Regions from separate parts of the Homo sapiens genome. Here region 1 is reported to be linked to region 2. Evidence: microRNA targets listed by miRTarBase, many of them from high-throughput screens and not tested one by one. Region 2 holds a microRNA gene; the other region holds the end of a gene's coding sequence.
What was found. The annotated mature microRNA hsa-miR-4705 reads UCAAUCACUUGGUAAUUGCUGU and lies in region 2 at 4,220-4,241, opposite strand. An mRNA with a match to its seed (bases 2 to 7 or 8) in the 3' UTR can be bound and repressed. Matches are read on the target gene's strand: a 7mer-m8 pairs with bases 2 to 8, a 7mer-A1 pairs with bases 2 to 7 and ends in A, and an 8mer does both.

Region 1 (7,881 bases), not on the chromosome of region 2:
TGAAGACGGTGTGGCTATAAAAAGAAAAAAAAAGAGCAAGAAATCAATATAAAGAAGACATCCCAAATAGTCCAAAATGCAGCCAGCTGTTTTAGAATTCAGACCCATGGCAGTGTTCAATGATAGGCTTCACAATTACATGTTGAGGTTGTGGCAAAGGATTAAGGAACCACTTATGGGGCTGGATCAGATGAGATTTATGCTGGAAATTTCATATTCCATGAAATTTGAATTGGCATACTATAGCATGACTTCAGATAGGCTGTATTTATTATTTGGAAAGATGTCTGCTACATACCTTAACTGGTGAACTGGCTCAATAGAATTCACTAATTTTTTTTGAACTCAAGAAATATTGATTTGTATTTACTATTTTGAGACATGTGAAATAGACAAAACAAGGAATTGTACAGTGATTTGCTACAGAGTATAGCATAGAAAGTGGTCTAAATCAGTCCATGTGTTTGGACCTATTCCAAACTTGACAATAGTTGTATGTTAGTAAGTCATAGAATTGGCCACGTGTTTAACACCCATTATGTTGCCTAACCCATAGTAGACAACATTTGTTGAAAGAAGAAATGACTAATTTCTTTCATTGCTTGATTGATGTTCACTAGCTTCTAACCTGCCTGAGGAGCAGAGGAAGCCAATTCCCAAGGCACCAGTTGGTTAGATCACCTTTTAAGACTTTCAGCACAACTTTACCCCCTTGGAGAAGAGGTCATAACTAGTAATAGGATAGGCCATGGAAACAGGAGCCACAGTGACTGGTAAGAAGATCCCCTGTAGTGCAGAGGAAGGCAGCTCTGAGAGCAAAGTTGAGTATTTTCAGGGGAGATAGAAAAGTTTTAACTAGATAGTCAATCAACTCTCCAAAATTGAGACAGTACTTCAAATTATAGCATTCCATTAGAAAATACTGCTTTCACATGAACATTCACGAGTATATTTGAAACTTTTTTTGAACTCAGAAATAACATCCTACAAACCATAAGGAAATACAAAACTAGTGAAAAAGTAATCATATCAAACAACACCAAATTTTACAAAACATCAAAACCCTTTTATGGAAAGTGAAATTGTTAGAATATGTTTTTTAACTGTTTAATTTATTAGGTGCCCATGGCCATATGTGACCACAGAGACTTGTAAAGCAATGCTAATTCTTTTATTCAGCCATTGGAAACATTTATCTTTAGGCTATGTATGAGGAAATTATATGATGTCCTCTTTGCTGTATTCTTATCTTGGGCTATATACAGATGAGAGATTATCTTACTTCCCATAGTCTTCCTACCAATATCATTATTGATTAGATAGTACAAAACCATAAATATTTCAGTATAGATTTTATTTTTAATTGTTTCCAGTGACATGATTTGATCAAGACTTGGATCAAGAATTAAATTTAAGATATCTTCCTAGATATTATTAATTTTGTTCTCTAAGAATAATAGATTTATGATTTAAAGGGATTTATTTAAATTCCTTTGCCCTTCTTTTTAAAAAACTGTCACACATCTCTATTTAAAGCACTATTTGGATGCAAAAAGTCATTAATTTAAAATTGAGAAGTTTTTCTTCCTTTTTGTTCTCTCTCACTTCCTCCTTTTTCCATTCTTTTCTTTTTCCTTCTCCCACTTTCCTCTCTCTTTTCTGAAAAGTTGTGTCCAGCTCCCCAAATCTATTCTCTAAATTCTTGCCCTGCATTCACCAAGAGGTGAAAAGATCATAAAATGTCATTGTTTCTATCAAGTCAGAACTGTCAGCAGTGTGGAAGCAATACAAAGACTTTGTAAGAAAACACTTATCTTAGTAACCTTTTTGTGTGAGACAAATAGAGAAGAAATTATTTCTGAGTTTAAAAATAGTCAACACAACTTGGAAAACATGGTAATATTTATTCATGATAATAAACACGTTTTTAATGAAAGCCATAGATGTCCAAACACAAACTGAATCATGACAACCCAATGGTCTTTTTTACAAAAACCATGACATATGTCCCATTAATTTGCTAAATGATATGAATGCAGAGAAAGGATGAATCAAAACCACTAAAATCCTTTTAAACACACCATCTAGTTTAGATGTCAACTCTGAAAATGGCATTCAAAAATGGTCCCTCTCTTTTAAATTTATCTGCTGAGTTTTTGTTACGGTACCTTTACCAATTTCTTAAAAGCTTTAATTGTTATCATTCATTTCAACTCAAAACTGCTAGCAATTTGGTTTGACTTTCCATAAAGGACTAAATTCTGTCACATTAATACATATGTAGGTAGTTATACAATGTCATTTGTAAGTATATGGGTCTGAAAGGGCCATTATAAATGTTATATAAACCATATAGTATATAGGGTATATATATTATGTGGTGTACGTAATAGCTGACTAGAAAAAAATATATACCTATCTAGTACATGATTTTCTCTAATAGCTTCAGACTTCTTTCAAATTAAACTTACTATTTGGACAATTTTTAAAGTTTGCTAGAGATTTAAATTTTTATTCTTAAGTACCATCAAGTCAGATGCCTATATAATTGTCACTTTCAAAAATTTACCTCAGTCTTTCCCGGAAGCCATTTAGATGCATCTGATATTATTTTAAAAATCAAATTAAATGTAAAAATGTCCAAATAAACTTTCTTTATTGGTAATTTATAATATAGTCATCCTATTGTACTCTTTAAATTGAATTATCTGAATCTGAAAATTTAAAAAAGCTAAGTTTTATAAATAAAATCTCAGGAGGAAAAGGCACTTAAGCCCTGCACACGGTTATTCCAGTCTGTATTCTCCACAACCCTTATCAAATGGAATTGATTTCTGGCCTGCATCCAAATACAGCAACGTGCCAGAATAAAATCAAATCAGAATGCTTATGAAAAAGAATCAAGTTGGCCACCAAATGTTTCATAGCAGTAGGAAATTTCTTTAGAGACTTCTGATGGAAATTTGAAGTGTATGTTGCTATCAGATCAAGTGCAGGAGAGGTATAAGGCTACTGGAGAAATTCCCTTAGTCTATTGACCAGAAAGCTAAAACATTTGTCGTAACAGTAAAGCTTGACAAGATAATCAAATGAATGATAACAAAATCTCAGCAGGGAAGTGCCCATTAATTGAATTTATTTGGAAGCATGTTTTCACAAGTATAACCAAATCATCTAATTTCCACTCACATTAAAAAGTGATAGTCTATAACAACTAATTACTGGAAATGAAGGAAAAGGCCAGTACTTTGAACCAATAACACAGAAGAAAACAAAATTACTAACATCAAAAGACTGCCATATTTGACAGCTTCTTAAGAATTCAATTCATCATTTCATCCTGTGAAACTATTTCAGTGAAACTCGCCAAAGAAAAGAATCCCAGTAATTTCTATGTAGTAGTGTCTTTAATGCTGGAACACATTTCTCATATTCTTTGTATCATTTTTTGATATTAATACGTATGTCAGGATGAGTGTGGCAAGAGGTGAAATAACTGTTGTTACAGATGTAACAATTTAGTTTCAGCACTTCACTCCTGTAAGAAAATTAGTGCCATCTGTTTTCCTCTTTTTAATATTATATATACTTGATAATTTTTAAAAAAATGTTGCTGTTTTCACATACAGATCAGGAAGTCGGAAATAAAGCATCACTTTGGTCAACTTTTATATTTGAAATGAGGAATAAAATAATATATACTCAGATTTTCTGCTTTGAGTTGCCAGCAAGACGTCTACAAATCTGACATTTTTAATGCTTTAGCAAATTATTTTCCAATTTGCATAAAGTTAGTAATAAACTTTGTTATATATCTGTGGTAGCCAATTAGATTTTGTTCATAGTCAACATGTTCAGTAGAGATTTAAAACTATGAAATCTGTCACTTTTATTTTTCTATCCTCATACTCTAAAACATTAATCTCTTGGTAAACATTTGGTAAAAATTTTATATAACAGCAAAACAATGAAATAAAGTTCATTTTAGTGTAATCTTTGTATAAATTATAAGCAGCTTTGCCTAATTTTTAATCGGAGGCAGGAAAATCTGAATTAACAAATAATGCCAAAAATATTATTTTAATTTTGTTACTTACATTGTTTTTCAAAGAAAATTATCTAAATAAATACATTTTAAACATATTTGCTAAAATTGAGTAACAGTATTTATTTTTCTTGCATATAAAGATTATGTTTCAGCTTTAAAAACAGTTCTTAATGTTCTGTATAATGTGGGGCATCCTTTTTCATTCAGAAACTAGAGACTGCAATTATAAAACTAGCAACTAACACTCATTCACAATGACTTTATCACGTGACTGGTGAACAACAATTAAACCTAGGCTGCTTTATCTTCCATAAAGTTATTCTACCCTAATTTAGAGAAAATAATTAATAGGGCTATGCTTTGTTTTCCTCAATCATTTTCCTAAATTAATATAAAGAGGGTGACAGTTATGCTATATATAGGCAGATTGATAAATGCAGAGCAATAGATTGGTAGGTAGATGATATAAATATGGCCATCGTTAAAACATACTATTTAATAGAATGTTTGGTTTTGCCAAATGAAGCAATGCATATGAAAGTATTCATTCATATCTTATTTTGTTGTCATTTCTATTCTGTTCTTGTGTTTTGTTTAATTAATACAGTAAAATACAGTGTTCCAATTGAACAATACTTCAGATGCTAAACAATTATTTGTATTTGTGTACACTGGCAGTTCACAGTTGAAAAGCATAACCACCTCAGTCAAAAGCTGTATGTAGATCACTCTGGATTTTGAAGACTTTTGCTTCTAACAGAGACTTTTTTTTAATTATGGAGGAATACCTACATTTCTTTGATAGATAATAATTGGGAGGGGGGATTATAATCACATAAATTCCTTGAAATAGATTTTTATCTTTTAGTGTCAGTTTAATATCTTGCTCAGCACTTTTACATTCTCTTAGCATGGCAACTTTCTATTCATTACTTTATGGTAGTTTAATCACCCCCATTTTATGAACCTAGTTATTTGTATTCCATGAAATATTGCAAATTTCTTTTCAATAGACCTTTTCCTTGATGACTAGAATTGGAACTTGTTTTTCTAACTAACTGAAAACAATTGGCACTTTATTTCTACAACATCTGTACCTAAGAGATATTTAACAACACAAAGCTAATCTTTCTTTTTTTCATGGATTTCTGGAGCTTTTAAATTCATAACAAACATTAAATAATTTTTATGAGTTTCATCTTAGATGAGACTTGCCTTTAAATACATGTTTGTGTTTTCTGTGGAAGTTACCTATATGTCTTCAAAAACCTGACTGGTCTAATCTAGAAAAATTACTCTTTGAGACAGTCATGTTTCTTTGTTCTTCTTTTCCTTTTTTTCTTTTTTTTCTTTTTTTAGAAAAAAGAAAGACAAAACAGCAATAAACATTTTAGCTCTTTAATGAGCAAAGATCATGTTTCTTAGCATTGGACTAATAGTCATTATCCAGATTATCTTTATTTCACACAATGACCAGTGACATGGCCAAGATGTACAAAGTTGGTTCCATCAAGTAGTATACAATTTTTTGTATAATAATCTTTCATTCTTGAAAAAGAGTAACTGAAAAGAAAGGTTTCTGTTACTGCAGTTAGTTTGTCAGAGAAAGTTCTTTGCATTATCTTATAAACTATCAAAATTGCTAGTCATCTGAAAAAATGTAAAAAAAAAATCACATAACTTTAGTCTAATAGAAATATAGTACAGGTGAGAGAGAAAGTATTTATCAGGATGTGCTCTTTAAGTCCATCTCATTTGTTTTTCAATATAAATGTACATCTGATTACATATACAAACATTTGGAAAGGTCTGTGATATACTGTTACTGGTAAACAACAGGGGGATGAAGAGTTTCCTGTGGTCTGAGAATATTCGTTTAAAATCACACATATGTGTAAGAAAGACTAAAATCCTCCAGATGTTGACTCTCCTAGGTTCTGTATCTACGTTGTACTCTACTGAGATTGCGTGAGTAAATTCCAGTGAATGAACCTCAGTGAGAAAGATAAGTGATGTAAAGAGGGATATAACTTTATAATGAATTGTTATTAGTAAACATTTTGTCATGCAGCATGAGTAAATCAAAGAACTCAGAACTATAATCAGAGTGGTAATACGGGGGCATCCTCATATCATGAAAGACTGTTGCAAGTAACTCTTTGGACACACTTCACCTTACCAAAAGGAACAAAATACAGAGTAACAAAAAAACACAGCAACTTATAGATCCTGTACCACATGTCCAATTAGGGTTATATTTCTATAAATTATCTAGATGGGATTGAAAAGAACATTAAAAACAGGAAATTTTTTTCTGGGATTCATATCAGCGAGTATTCACCACTATACCTATAGTTTCTTCAAATACCTTTAATAGCTAATTCCTTCTATATTGAAACTACTGTGAATTATTTTATTGTAATTACTTTTGCCCCTTAAAATCTTCTTTAGGTTCTGCCAATTGATGGAGGAAGCTTCTATTAAAAACTCCAATGGGATGAGAAGAATTTTAATTACGGCTTAATCAGCAGCACAGCCACCAAGCATATAAATTATCATGCACATCGTGCTAAAAATATCCAGTTTCCTTTATCCCCACAACTTTATACTGACAGCACTTATGTGATAATGGTGTACCTGCCAGTCTTTAAACTTCTTTGTTTTACTGGCAAATTTCAGCATGAGCCTTTGCTAAGGCCATTAACAGCATTGACGCTTTGTGTACTTATCCAAATATGTAAATATGGTCTACACAATAAAACGGCTCCAAATAAAAACTGGTGAAAATTATCTGACATTCCACTGGTGTGTCCCTTGTGCATATTCATAGTTGTTTTTTTATTTTTATTTTTTATATTTCAGACATAGTTCTTTCCTGTTTGGTGTTCCACATGCCTAATTCCATTATGTAACTTAAATCTTCAAAAAATTAATTCTTGAATGTGAATGAAAAAGTATCATTCAGAACAATTGCTTCAAGCAATTGAAATTTGTTTTTAAAGTTGATTTGTATATATACAATTCATTTTTTTCAAAACCCCCAAAGTTCTTGATATGTATATTCACATAATATTCCTCCTTATTTAAATAGTAAGTCTTGTAGGTTGAAAGCCAAGGAATCTTCAGTGATCGTTTACTGCAATCCATCAAAAAAAATAGTTTGTTTCTCTTATCTGGCTATACCCTGGTTGTTGAATGTGAATGGGGGTGGGGATGGGGATGGGGCAGAGTATTGTTCTGTCCTCCAGTAAATGTATTGAATGTGTGTAAGGGCTGAATCCCTGGTATAGTGTTGGGAATCATTGTAATGGTGTTGGGTGTCATTAAGGGAACATCATCAGGTGACCTCCTCATAGCTAGTGTGTAATCTGGGGGACAGGCGGTCCGAAGAACCACCTCATGTGGATGAATGGACTCACATTCATGATCCAAATCAGTGTGCTTCATTTGGAGGGACATGATTTCCTCTTCTTGTGCATGGGTTAGATCATTGGTAGTAGTGCGCTGAGGGCTGCATCTCCTGTGAACATCATGTCTCCTCTTATCCTTTTTGTAGTACAGGGCTGCAAAGGCCAAGATGTTCAGAAACAGCAGTGATGCTCCAACTGCAATAGTGACACTCAGCTCTGTTGAGTAGTCCCTTTGATCCACTGAAAATGGACTTGGTTGTTGTTTGGGATCATCCTGCTTGGCAGTGGGAAAGGCTGACGTGACAGGTACAGAATTTTTTCTCGTAGGTCTGAAAGTGATGTCAGTTGATGGCACTTTAGTTGTTGTAGAGGTATACTGAGAAATGTCATTGAGATTATGCAGATGAGGTACCAACTCCAACC
Region 2 (7,922 bases):
GTGCTTCCTTATTTTCTTCTAGAAGTGTCTCCTTGGGAGTGGGGAGAGAGAACTACCTATCTAGGTGAAAGTTCTTTCAGATCCTACCTTTGGACATGATTTCCTCACATTCCAACAGCATCCACAGTGAAGTCTCTAATTTCCTTCACATTTCTCCTTCACAAGTCTCCTAAGTTCCATTGCTTGAGAATGCACATCTTAACACTGTGACCAGCCAGCCAAAGTTCACTTAAAGGACTCATCTCACTATCCAACACAACAAAATGTTTGGTAACAAACGAACATACTCAAAGAAGAGCAAACTTTCCTTCCTTAGTCATTTCCTTATGCCTAAATTCTTTTGTAAAAGACTGAATCAATTTTCACATCTGAGTTCTGGTTCACCTACTACCTAGCACATGATAGGAACTCCTATGTGGCATAAAACATGGTAATGAGGCAGTCTGCATCTGCATGGCAGCTGACAAGGAATGCTTATACAAATATGGTATCACTTAGTAAAACAGGCACTTTCATGCATGACACTAACCTGTGAAATGTACACAAATTCATATCATTATCAATAAATTAGTACAATCTACTCAGCTGTTTCTCACTTCTGAGACACTGCAGTCTAGCTCAGTGAATTGAGAAGGTCGTAATCATTGTTCCTCAGTGACCTTGTCTATTCTTGTATTTAATATTAACTCTAAGAGGCACCTGTCACAGTAAGTACTTCCACCTGTTGGAATGTAATTTCCAACATGTCTTTTTTATTCAGTAATATATCCTCAGAACCTAGAACAGGGCCTGGCATATAGTAGATGCTCAAAGCCAAAAATGTCTAGAATGAATGAATAAACAAGTGAATGCTGTGTCCAATATGTGTGAATGCCATGTAAGCACAAAGGTAAAAAAAAGACAAACACCTGCCCTTGCAGATTTGCAGTTAAATGGAACATAATCTCTCTAATATTAGTGATGTGCCAACACATGTCTGTGTATATTTTAGGAGAATATAAAAAACAGAGAACTCATGTTTTTAGTGAGTGAGTCAATTTTATTCAGATGATTTTATTCAAAAGGCAGGCTGTTTCACTCTCAAAACTATGGATAGTTGGGGCTGCACAATTCTTTGTTGCAGAGGGCTTTGCGTATTGTAGAATATGCAGTACCAGCAAGTGTCAGTAGCAAACCTCCAGCAGTGACAACAAAAATATCTCAGACATTTGTGCCAAGAGAATCACTGGACTAAAAAATACGAATTTACCAGACGGACGAATGGATAAAGAGAAAAATATGAGCTTATGAATGACAGGGTCAGGACCATATTTATCTTTGCATTCTAGCAAATAGCATTAGTGCTGATCATAAAAAGAAATAATTAATGTCTTACATTGCTCTTTTAATCTGTCATGTCCATTCATACGCATATAATCCTTAAAACAACCTTGCAGGAAAATAGTGTTGATATTGACTCCTTTATTAAATAACACAATCCGGATAAGCAAAATGAAGCACCCAAGGTCACCTTTATATTTTAGTGGTCTTTGTTCTTCTCAGGACTTTTCCTCAATCGTACTTAAAGCCACTAACCACTCAGATGACTTATTCTTCCAATTGGAACCAGGCTGCATTAAATCACAATTGTTTAACAACTGTCAAACAACAGGTTTCATCCAACGCTTACTCTAGGCCAGATACTTTGCTAAACACTGAGGCAAAACCTCCAAACAATTTGCTTCTTTTTTAGAAGGGCAAGTACTTGACAGTGGATGAAAGTGGAACATTTTTCCCCTAGAGGGATCAAATTGGGGTATAACTCTAAAGGCAGGTTTGAGGGAGAAATTAAAAAGAGGTAAAATGCAGTATGGGACATGAAAATGGAAAACCTTCTCAAATAAGGCCAGTAAAGTGCAAAACAGGGTAAAAGCAAATATCTGACCGAAACAGTGAGCCATATAAGAAACATGAAACTAGATTAGGAACTAGGAAATCTGGCCTTTCCTTCCCACGGTTCCAGCATTTATCTTGTTGATCTTGGGCAAGCCATTTAACCTCTCTGGGTCTCACTTTAGATGGTCTCCAGCCCAAAGGCCAGCTTAACTGGCATGCATGTGGACTATCAGTGCGGCTACCACATCCTACCTAGCAACTGGATTGTTGTCATGGCTGCTGCACCATCCTTGTACAAGTGCAGCAATCAGAAGGATCTCTGAAATTACAGTGCTCAAGTTCTGTTAAGCTTTAACTCTGGGAAGCTATGAGTGGAACTGCATAGAAATGACACTGGAATGTGAATGCCAATGCCCAAAGTAAGGTGGCTCTGGCCAGCCATGCTAACTTGTCTTGAAGTCTATTTGCACAGAAGATACAGCTGGAACATGTGCTTTCCTCCACTTCATCTCACCTGGGGTCAAGACCCGGTTGGCCAGCTGACTGGCCACTGACATCCCCCTTGACTCCATAGGGAGCTGCAGTTGAGGTACTTTCCAAATGAATCCTGACTTACACAGGTACTCTCCTCCTCCTGGTAGATGCTGTCCTAACTGCTAATTACCCCTAAAAGATAACTGATTCCTTTCCTATTGTTTCTCCCCTAAACTGCAAAAGATGATTGCAATGATAAAAAAAAAAACTGCTTTTATTAAATGAACTTTTGGAAGAGGAACATATATAAATAAATTAGTAGTAGTCCATAAAAACCTGTCCTTCATGTTCAACCTAATGGGCATCCTAGGGCAACTATTTGCCAGATCATCGATCTGTTGAGAAAGGAATAAAAGCGAAGTCTCCTCTTTCGTAAAAAAAAAATGCACAAAATTTTCTATAAGTTTCAGGTGGCTTGGAGATACTCTGAAGCATTAAGTTAAACACAGTTTAAAAACTGCCTTAAAGTGATCATCATTTTAATTATTTCCAAACCCATGATCTCTCAAAGCCATTTAATTGCTGTAAAAGGCACTTTCAGGAGGAAAACAATCTCAAATTACCTTCCACCATCCTCCACCACTCAAGAAGAAGAAAGATATACATCGTCAGTCCCCCACAACTTTCCAACATCAAAATTTCAAGCATTTTATTTGGCCAGATGCATGTAGATCATTTACAGTTTAATGGAAATATTGACATATGTCTACCAAAATACTCTAGATCTATTGGAGAAATTTTGCCGATGTTGGTGTACTCTGACTTGCTACCATGGCCAGCAAATAGAGGTGTCTACTCATCCTCATTCTTATACAAGGACAGAACAGCAATAGTGGCAAAAACATGTGTCTATAACCTCACTGACGTTCCCCATCCATGTCTGTTAAGCTGACCTCAGAGTCTGAGAGTGTCAATTGAATTTTACTCATCTAATAATTTTGATATTCAATTTGTGTAGTTAAAATATACATTATAGGGTGAAGTTTCAAGAGTTGTCTCAGACACTTCCCATCAAGCATCTATGTGCACACAGAGGTAGACTAAGTATGTCACATCAGCTAAATATACATCCTTTAGGGATGACTGGAAAGGAAACTGCTATGCAGATGGAAAAAAAAAAAGCTGTAACCATAGATATAAATATATGTAAATACACACAGAAGTTTCAATTTTCACAGGATGCCTGAAACAGGAATGCTTGATCTCTTTCACGAATATTAGGTTTTTAGAATTTCATAAATGGTGAGGAGAAAATATAAAATGGCACAGAAGGCTGTGGTAGAAGAACTCAGGTAACATATAAAGAAACCATCAGGACAACTCATTGTCTGATTTTGATTACTGTGGAGCAACTGTGATCTCTATCATGAAAATTCCTTAACAAGCTAGAAAAAAAATTAAAAGACCATGCAGTGGCAGAATAATGGAAATGCAGAACATGTTACATTGTACATAGGGATCTTTGAAAAGGAAAAAGCACAAATTGTATGTATCTGGTTCATAATCATATTTGATCCCTGATACAGTTTAGAGATGTGTAATTATCTACATCTCTTTCCCATTCATTCTGGTTGTAAGTTTTAAGTTCAGCAAATCAACTGTGTGATTAAAGCAACTGAATTCAGCCTGAAAATCTTTGCTCTGCCATCTATAGGATAGTCTGTCTGGTAGCTACTTGGAGGCACTACAGCATTAAGCATGTCATTCATGCAGAAGGGCCCGGGGTCTGACAAGCCTGTGAGGAATGGCTAGAAGAGCTGAACAAGCATTCTCACAAAACCAATCACTTGGTAATTGCTGAGTTGTTATCACAGCAATTACCAAGTGATTGATCTTGTGAGGGTTAGAGAAGTGGTAAATCCTTGGCATGTTCTTAAGGACTTTTGTCAATGTCAAGATCTATTCTAACTCCCACTTCTTGCACAAGAAAAAAGAGATGCCTTTTGTTCTTGCCTGGGCAGGAAACACTGACTCTCCAGTTACCCAACCCCCTAACTCCTTTTTCCTAAGCCTCTCTCTAGTCAATTCCTACGGGGCTGATTTCTGGAAAGATAATTCCACTAAAATTATTAACATGAAAACCATATATCAATATCATAGAATTATAAACACAGATAGATTGTAGTTAACTGCACCTACAAATAAACATTATTAATATTAAAGCTTGTGCATAATGATGTGGGAAAATTAATGCTTATTGTCAGAAAATATTTTTGAGTTTATTAATATAAAGAACACTAAGAGAAAAGCTCTCACATGTTATTACTATTTTAAAGAAACATGAATTAAATGGGGAACCACAAAAAACAGGAGTATGATGTTGCGTCAAATAGGAAAAGTGAGTATAGCTACCCAGGGTTAAATCTGGGGTCTTAGTCATAAATCTTTATTTGACAATTTAATGCACCGTTCTGTTAAACTACCATTTTGCTTTCATTGTTCCTACCTCAAATGACACAATTAACAAATTGTGAGTGCTGACGGTGATATCCAATAAAAGGTGGAATATATTAAAAAGGTTTATTGAAATTACTTTATCACATCTTCAGAAAATTGTTGAAAAGTACAGGTGGATAGATGAAAAGCCCTAACATCTTTTCTACCATTAGCAAGGGATGATTTTAAAAATGTAAATAAATGCATTTGCTATATTTGAAGCATAATTTCTACATTGATAATTTAGTTTAGAATAAATGTTGCTATTCCAATAATGAATGTCTCTTCATGGGTACTGCTGTCATAATTACTTAAGAAAAAAATATTAATTGGTCACCAAACCATCTCAGCAGATGGATCTATTGGGGAGGTGTCAGGTTAGTGTTACATTTTAGCACAAAATTGTTGTGTGTTATTTTATAGTATTCAAATAATCAAAATCATACAACTCTGGACAGGAATTGGCGAAGTATACTCCAAATGGAAAATTCACACATAAAACTGAATAAATAGTATATTTTTTCTGGGTTGTAGCCTAGATAAGAGAACAAAATATTTAAATGAGAAAATTTAGAAGTATAATACATATGGACAGCAGGAAATGTCATCCAAAAAGGTCATTTTTGCTTTATATAAAAAATTAACCATTTTATCCCCTTCCTACCATCCCACACATACACATACATACATCTTGGCAGCTTCGAAATTTTGGTTTAAGAATAATAAGAATAATAATGCAAACCTAAAAGATTCTAATTGTAATCATTTCTGCTCTTGAGGGAGATTTAGCTATACCTTTAAAAAAAAATTACTGGCCTGTTCAGGACAAAATAAGGATTGAAATGTTTTAAAGGATTAAGAAAATGTGGCACATATACACCATGGAATACTATGCAGCCATAAAAAATGATGAGTTCACGTCCTTTGCAGGGACATGGATGAAGCTGGAAACCATCATTCTCAGCAAACTATCGCAAGGACAAAAAACCAAACACCGCATATTCTCACTCATAGGTGGGAATTGAACAACGAGAACACATGGACACAGGAAGGGGAACATCACACACCGGGGCCTGTTGTGGGGTGGTGGGAAGGGGGAGGGATAGCATTAGGAGATATACCTAATGCTAAATGACGAGTTAATGGGTGCAGCACACCAACATGGCACATGTATACATATGTAACAAACCTGCATGTTGTGCACATGTACCCTAAAACTTAAAGTATAATAAAAAAAATCATCTTTACAAATAGTTTTTCTCAACATTAAAAAGGAAATTTAAACCCACTTTTCATGCCTTCTATTTAGAAGCAAAAAATACATTTTTATGAGAAAAGAGTATGGGCCCTTTTAGTTGGTATGGTGCCAGTTCCTTTAGAAGGAGACTTTCTAAGCCCGGTTTATTATCTTAGTTGTTTAAAAAAAAAAAAAGCAGCAGTTGATATAAACTTTTCATATTTAACTGAAGTTTACTCTGAAGAGATTAAAAGAGTTTCTATTCCATGAAACGACTTGCTCCAAGTTTCTATGACTGGGTTTCTTTTGGCTGAATGGCCCAGTTCAAGCTGTTTAATGATGTGGTAGATGAGGAAACAGCATGGCTCTTAGGTCATAACCTTGCTCTGTTGTTCAAAAGCTGTTGCGATCTTAGGAAAAGTACCAATCTTATGTTTTGTCTTCTAGAAAAGGGGGTGTGAGGGAATAATAAATACCTGTACTGCATGGTTGCTGTGAAAATTGTATGGGATAATGGACACATGAAGAGTTTGCAGAGTGCCTGATACCTTGTGGTTAGTATACGGTAACTATCATTTTTTGTTACATCTTTCACTTTGGATTCCATGTTTTATGCCCACAACATTTGGAGGTAAATTATAATTTCCATCTTAGAGTCGGAGTCACTTAAGGCTTAGAAGTTCAGTGACTTGCCCGCTGTCGTGTATGACAGATCTGAAAGTCTTCCAGTTCCAAATCCAGAATTAAGTTTCCACTCCTCATCCTATCTGGGCAATACTTAGTGCCACGTAAGTGTTACCTGCTGGGGATGATGATGCTGCACCTGTGTGAGAAGGAGCAGGCCCATGCTATTTGAAATAACTCACTGGGAAGACATTCCCAGGGGAAGAATGACATTGACCTTTGGAAACTTATAGTAGCCAGAGTTTGTGCCCAATTCCAGAACCGAGGCTGTCTTCACTCAGGCACATTCCTTATGTTATTTAGCCTTTGCTTCCCCAGCTATGGAGAAAAAGAGGATTCTCTTATTGATTACTCTGGATTCCAACTCTAATTCCTCAGATACTGTCACATTAATTATTTAAATCGGAATAACTTCCCTTCCTAAAACAGCAGTCTTTTGATATTGCTGTATTTCAGCTGATAATGGGAGAAAAAAGTTAGATTCCAAGAAAGGGCAAAAATTATGATACGAAATAAAAAACTAAGACATATGTCTCCTGAGAAAACAATGTAAAAAATCAATAGTCAAAGAAACTTCAATCAACCATTTTAAAGGAAAATTTTAGGAAAAAAAATACAATCAATATAAATATGAAAGGATATTAATTTTGAACATGCCAGAAAATCCTTATAGGCTATATATAATTTTTAAATAAAAGACACAAACTTTGATTTGCACAATTAAATGTCCTTTCTTTTACCTCTACATTCTGAGTTTTAACCAGTCAATAAATGTGCTCTTTCTAGACAAAAATAAATCTGAAAATCAAATTTTTATTGACTTTAAAATCATTATTCCAGGACTGAGCACCCAGTGTCATTGGGCCTCACTGTCACTGTGAAACCCTTCTTTTTGTTTTGAATGGGATTACTGATTTTGAGTCTTCTAATAATATGTTCACTTCAAAACAACAAAAAAATAGGAGACAGAATTGGATTTCCAAAAGTCCAAATCATCATTAAATAAACATTGTTTGCTTGCCTGAGCATTACTGTTTGCATCTTACTCTCCTCATTCATATATTAAGGTTCTAACCACCAGTACCTTAGAATGTGACTTTATTTGGAAATAAGATTATTACAGGTATAATTAGTTAAATTAAGATGAGCTCATACT

Region 1: miRTarBase lists NLGN1 as a target of hsa-miR-4705. Seed matches in the 3' UTR shown: 7mer-A1 at 4,418-4,424 and 7mer-A1 at 864-870.

What each region holds. Positions count from the first base shown.
Region 1 is chr3:174,280,648-174,288,528 of GRCh38, reverse strand. It overlaps NLGN1 (neuroligin 1), which reads right to left. Exons shown (of 7, transcript NM_001365925.2): 7 at 1-7,881. The coding sequence ends at 7,226. Among named protein-coding and RNA genes, the nearest start is that of NLGN1-AS1, 360 kb to the right of the region's middle.
Region 2 is chr13:102,041,755-102,049,676 of GRCh38, forward strand. It overlaps MIR4705 (microRNA 4705), which reads right to left and starts at 4,250; the gene lies at 4,180-4,250. It also overlaps a transcript of FGF14 not described here.